Homo sapiens: one gene and its partner. The protein of the gene in region 1 purifies or fractionates together with the protein of each later gene. This does not show direct contact. Each region holds a gene or a part of one and is shown on either strand. Other genes may lie near its edges.

Region 1 (3,098 bases):
AAGTCTGTGGTTCTGTGGGACACAATGTGCTAAATGATGCCTGTAAGGGAGGAGGTCGATGTACCTCCACTTCCAAGAAGCTTGACTTTCCGGGGAAGAAAAGACAAGTGAAGCGTAGACATTGCGACTTTTGGCTTCCTGTTTCTGTGAGTTGCAAGGAATCCTGTCCACCTGGCCCTGGAGCCGCCTTCTGGGACCTCATCCTTGCCCCCTGCTGCAGGTGCCATCTCAATTAGTCCTGCTGTCCCTCCTCCCCCTTTCAGATTCCAGCACAATTCTGGAACAGCTCTCCCACCTGGCCGGGGTGAGACTGAGGCTCCACCCTCAAGCACTTGGGCACTGATCCTTTGTGAAGGATGGGGATAGCAAGACAGCGTCTGCAGGGGCCCCTAGAGGGCCGTGGGGATGGCTAGAAAACAGGAATGAACAGACTCACTTCAGCTTATGCCCAGACTCACTTCAGCTTATGCCCAGAAACAAAGAAACCAAGGAGAAGCAAATTCCATAAGTGCTTTTATTTTATTGGAGATGAGCAGGGGAGGCACTGAAAAGTGGGGATAGTGCTGGAAACATGCTGACAGGGCCTGGATTGAGCCCACACAGCAAGGGGCGGGAGCAGGACTCTAACTCCCAATGTTGGGTTTCCCTCTATCGTGCTCTAGCCCCACTGCAACCTAGGGCTTGGAGGATTAGGGAAGCCAGCTGGGATGTTCCAAGAAGAGCCAGGAGGGCGGAGGACTCCAGGAGGAAATGGGTTATTGATACCTGGGTATAGATGAATATTCCCCCAGCTGCCTCCTGGATACCGATTAATATTCCCCCAGCTGCCTCCTGGATACCGATTAATATTTCCCCAGCTGCCTCCTGGATACCGATTAATATTTCCCCAGCTGGTACCTGGGGGTTGATTATTGATACCCCAGATTCCCTCAGGGTGTGGCATGGGCCTCGTTCCCCAACCAGTCCCAGGGCCTCCACCTCCCCAGGACACACTGGGATTCAGGGTACCCCAGGGGTGATCAGGCAGAACCCTGTGGATGAGAGACCAGGGAGGGCGTTGGGAAAGGATTTTTCCCCCGGCTCCCAGTGAATTAGAACGGGGCAGTCGTCTGGACTCCGAGTCCTGGTGGAGGAGTGAAGCCTTGGGTGAGAGGCCTGTGGCATCGGGAGAAGACTCCCCAGGCAAAGGGCCACTGCCCGGAGCGAGGGCCGCAGCACTGGAGAGGTAAGAGAGTTCTTCAGGCAGCGCTTCCCCCAGGCGGTCCTCAGCCGCAGCAGCCATCATCTGCCAAGGATCCTCAGGGGGCCAGGAATCCATGGCAGGCAGCCCCCACGATGGAGGCCACCTCTGCACTGCAGAACCTCCTGCAGGTGGGAAGCCATCTGATGCAGGCACGCTGAGCTTCAGAGGAACCCTTGCCAAGTCATTAGACCTAGGGTCCAGAGCGGGCTGCGGATGTTCAGAGTTAGAGGGGCCAGTGGAGGAAGGTTGTCCGAGCTGAGGCAAGTTGGTCCCCAAGTTTTGGGAAACTTTCTCCTCCACAACACCGATGCTCCGGGCAAAGAGGCCTGAGGGAAAGGGAAGATAAAGCAACCAGTGGTCTCCAGTCCCCGAGTCCCCAGTTCCCTTTGCTTCCCCTATGCCTATTCTTCCTTTTCCCTCAGGGACCTAAATGTGTACCCTCCTGCCTTTACCCCTTTCCTTAATTCCTGTTTCCTGGGGGACCTCCAGTCCCTCCTGCCCAAGGGCATCACGGCCTCCATACCTGGGAGATGAAGACAGACCAGGAGCAGGCCCAGAGGAGCGCAGCTCCCTGCCACGCGGCCCTGCATCCTGCTCAGCACCCGATCTCCCTCAGCCCCAAGACAGCCAGCCCTTTATCCTGGTAGTGGGGTGGGGGACAGCAGAAACAGGCTGGGCTAGTGGTTGTGAAGACAATAAACCTCCACATTCCACCCTCATTCCTAATGTGGTCTGTGGCAACAGGTGTCACTTGAATGAATGTCCCAGAGGAAGCTGGGTGTCTCCCGCCCTGGCTCCTTTCCTTGACCTCCCTGCCCCTTCTTGGCCCAGGTGTCCTGGCTCACAGCTCATCCCTGGTTGCCAGCCTCCCCAGCCCTGCTTCTCTATACACAAGGACCTCCACCCTGGGGTCCCACTCTCTTAATTGCCTCTCTCAGCAACAGAAACACTTGTTTCTTTTTGGGAGCTGGATTGTTTCCTCCCAGCACCCCTTTCTCATGCATCCTCATATCTCCTTCACCTTGGCCCCAACCTGCAGGAGGTTCTGGGGTGCAGAAGTGGCCCCATCTGAGGAGCTGCTCCTACATGAGACCCTGGATCTAGCTAGGGAAATGGACCTGGATGCCATCCTTATGAGATACTGACTAATTCCTGCTGCTGCAGTGACAAATTACCATGAACCGAATGGCTTACAACAACATGGATTTATTACTTTACAGTTTTGGAGATCAGAAGTCTAAAACAGGTCTCAGTGGATTAAAATAAAGGTGTCAGCAGGGCTGTGATTCTTTCTGGGGGCCTCAGGGGAAAATCCCTTTCCCTGCTTTTTCACCTTCTAGAGGCATCCTGTGTTCTTTGGCTCATGGTCCCCTTCCTCCATCTCCAAAGCCAAAATCAGCCATTTCTTACACTGTATCACTCAGACTTCCTCTTCTGCCTCCCATGTCCACATTAAGGGACCTGGTGACTACACTGGACCCACCTGAATAATCCATGATAATCTCTGTGAAGTCAGCCGAATAGCAACCTTAATCCCATCTGGAACCTTAATTTCCCTTTGCCATGTAACCTAATTCCTACGTTCCAGGGATTAGGATGTGGACATCTTTGATGGTGTTGGGGTTGAAGACATCATTCTGCCTGCTACTGGTGGTCAGATGTGCCATAGAGTATAAGAAACCTTGGGAGAAAGTGGCTATTTCCAAGTAACAGTAGAGGAGAGCCTTTAAATGCTGCTGTCAAATGGCCAGGACTTGATCCTTGTTGAAGCTGGGCGATGAGAATGTAGAGATTCATTAACAGTTTGTTGGCTTTTAAATATGTTTGCAAATTTTATTATAAAAATGCAATGGCT
Region 2 (3,500 bases), on another chromosome or scaffold:
ATAGAATTTTAAACTCAGAAGATCTTTTTTTTTTTTTTTTTTTTTTTTTTGAGACAGAGTTTCACTCTTGTTGCCCAGGCTGGAGTGCAATGGTGTGATCTCAGCTTACCGCAACCTCTGCCTCCCAGGTTCAAGTGATTCTCCTGCCTCAGCCTCCCGAGTAGCTGGGATTACTGGCATGCGCCACTACGCCTGGCTAATTTTGTATTTTTAGTAGAGATGGGGTTTCTCTATGTTGGTCAGGCTGGTCTCGAGCTCCTGACCTCAGGTGATCCGCCCACCTCAGCCTCCCGAAGTGCTGGGATTACAGGCGTGAGCCACTGCACCTGCCGCCGCCGCCTTTTTATTTTTTTTAAAACGGAGTTTCATTCTTGTTGCCCAGGCTGGAGTGCAATGGCGCAATCTTGGCTCACTGTAACCTCCGCCTCCCGGGTTCAAGTGATTCTCCTGCCTCAGCCTCCCAAGTAGCTGGGATTACAGGCATGCCTGGCTAATTTTGTATTTTTAGTAGACATGGGGTTTCACCACGTTGATCAGGCTGGTCTCAAACTCCTTACCTCAGGTTATCTGCCTGCCTTGGCCTCCCAAAGTTCTGGGATTACAGTCATGAACCACTATGGCCGGCCAGAGCTAGTTTTCTTTACGTTAGAACTGTGAGTTGTCAGTTTCAGAAATTCCAGTCTATGAAAACATCATTGATTACAAACAACAACAAAACCTCAGTAAATTATTGTTACTTTATGTTATTTTCTACCCATGACTGGTAGTGCAAGGTAGTGTAGAATAACTGTTAGCACTGTCTTTAGTAGTGGACATCTTTATTTCAGCTCAAATTTGTGAGAGTGAGAGTTGCATCAATACTCATAATTGAGGCCTACTTGTATATGTCTTCTTCATAGGTTCCTTGTAATGGCTTCAGTGACATTGAGAACCTTGAAGGACCAGAGATTTTTTTTGAGGATGAACTGGTGTGTATCCTAAATATGGAAGGAAGGTAAGCCATAGCTTTAGCAGGGATTTGTTTGCTTTAATAAGTCCAGAGTAAATTGCTGTAATTTCTGTGTGGCTAAACCCTGGAATATGTGATTCCAAATATTTCACGCCTTGTCATAGTTACAGTTTTGAAAAGTTCTGTGTATATTAGGTAGATACACCAAGACAATTGACATATAAAGAAACCTTACAAAAATCCTTTTGGAAAGAAAATGGAATTAATGTTTAGCACTACTATGGGTCAAATACTGTGCCCCAGACCCTTGTATCTGTTGTGTTGTTTAGAAACCTTTTGGTAATAGGCCAGGCACGGTGGCTCACGCCTGTAATCCCAGCACTTTGGGAGGCCGAGATGGGCGGATCACCTGAAGTCAGGAGTTCGCGACCAGCCTGGCCAACGTGGTGAAACCCCATCTCTACTTAAAAAAATACAAAAAATTAGCTGGGTGTGGTGGTACACACCTGTAATCCCAGCTACTCGGGAGGCTGAGGCAGAAGAATCATTTGAACCCGGGAGGTGGAGGTTGCAGTGAGCCGAGATTGCACCATTGCACTCCAGACTGGGGGACAAGAGCAAGACTTCGTCTCATAAAAAAAAGAAACCTTCTGGTAATATAAATCATCCTTCCTTCATTATTACCTCTCCACTTACTATCAGATTTGCCTATCATGAATTGAATCTTTTAATTTAAAAATAATAATTTCTTAGGCATGTCTTAATTTAATGGATGATTTTTTACAATTTCTGAATTGCGGTACAAAATAATCTACTTTGTTCTTTGAACACTGTAGATCTTTGGGTGAGCCTTTCTTTTATCTTCCAGTCAGAAAACTGCGTACTTAGGGACTCACTTGATCAAGAAGAACCCCTTATGTCTTGGTTATTGCTTAAAATTTCATATACCTTTTATTTTCTGCTGTGAAGGTTAATTTCCAGTTTTTCCCTGAAAGATGAGTGGGCTTCCAGCCTAACTTTCCTGTGGAAAAGACTTTCTGTTCTAAAAGTTCTGAAAACTTTCTAGTGATGGAAGATAAGAATGTTAGTTTAACATCTTCCTTAAAAGGAATCTTTGCGAAATATCTCACAAACAAGGCATGAAATATTTATGTTGTTTTTTAAAGGGGATTTAGGAGAGAGAAATATCTATCAGTGGAACAACTGTGGGTAGAGGTAAGATGTGTCACTATTCTAGGCCTTGGATGAGTTCAGATGCAGAGGTCATTTTTCCATTTCTATTTTGGTTTATCTATAAATGAATTGAAGTATGATCTAGTAGTCAGTATTGTGCAGTCTTAAAAATAAAAGCTGACTTGTGTTTTTTAATGTGCATATGTACTTTAAAATACATAAATGGGACCTCATACCTACTTTGTTGGTTGTTTTGGTTTGGTGTTTAGTACAGACCTGGTTTTTCTCTTATTTATGCTGTTTCCTTTTTCCTCCCCATTCCCTCTGTTTACATTGTCCTTTCCTGCCCCCACCTCTGTAATTCTTGATAACAGCCCAGGTTGCATTCTTCTTGCTGACAGTGATGAGTATGGGAAGGGATCATTATTGCACAAAATTGGGATCACATAATAGGTACTTTTCTATATTGTTTTTTCTCATTCAACAGTACCTTATGGAAATCCATCCTCTTCAACGGGTAAAACATCAAAATCACTATTGTTAATGTCTACTTACTCTTTTGTGGTATGTTACATAATTTATTTACTTATTTTTATTTTTTTGAGATGGAATTTCGCTCTTGTAGCCCAGGCTGGAGTGCAATGGCGTGATCTTGGCAACCTCTGCCTCCTGGGTCCAAGAGATTGTCCTGCTTCAGCCTCCTGAGTAGCTGGGATTACAGGTGCCCACCACCACACCCAGCTAATTTTGTATTTTTAGTAGAAACGGTGTTTCTCCCTCTTGGTCAGGCTGGTCTCAAACTCCTGATGTCACGTGATCTGCTGGTCTCGGCTTCCCAGAGTGCTGAGATTATGGGCGTGAGCCACCGTGCCTAGCCTACATAATTTTCCTATAGATGGACAACCACTTTTTTTTCCATTTTGTGTCACTGTGAGGAGTGATGTTTCTAGGCAGTAGAGTCCTGGGAATGGGTTTCCCAGTTCAGACTATAGGATGTTATTGAAAGACATAAAATAGATAGCATGTCCTGGAATGTGAAGACTTGCTATCACAAAAAATGTCAGTTCTCCCCAAATTAATTTATAAACCTAGTGTCATTCCAATTAGGATTCAAACAAAGTATTTTTGTTGGGGGTGGTGAGCAGGGGGGAGTTGTTTTGCTTTTTTCTTTTCTTTCATTTGGATGTCATAAAATATATACAGAAGACTAAATTCACAAGAAGAGCCAGAAAACAATTTTTCAGTAATCATAATGGGAAACTGGCATCACTAGATATTAGGCCATCTTATAAAGCTACTTATAATCCAAACAGCACAGTGATTCAATAAAAATAGCTGCATCAGTAGCAGAGGATAATTGACAAATGCATCCCAGAAT

The links.
Region 2: the proteins of C6orf15 (region 1) and FBXO21 purify together in Homo sapiens (affinity purification with mass spectrometry; one large-scale study listed by BioGRID and IntAct). This does not show direct contact.

The regions. Positions count from the first base shown.
Region 1 is NC_000006.12:31,110,723-31,113,820, forward strand, and holds C6orf15 (uncharacterized protein C6orf15 precursor), read right to left. Parts: upstream 1,854-3,098; 5' UTR 1,834-1,853; coding exon 1,767-1,833; intron 1,570-1,766; coding exon 659-1,569; 3' UTR 501-658; downstream 1-500.
Region 2 is NC_000012.12:117,183,971-117,187,470, reverse strand, and holds part of FBXO21 (F-box only protein 21), read left to right. Parts: intron 1-899; coding exon 900-994; intron 995-3,500. UniProt on the Homo sapiens protein: Substrate-recognition component of the SCF (SKP1-CUL1-F-box protein)-type E3 ubiquitin ligase complex.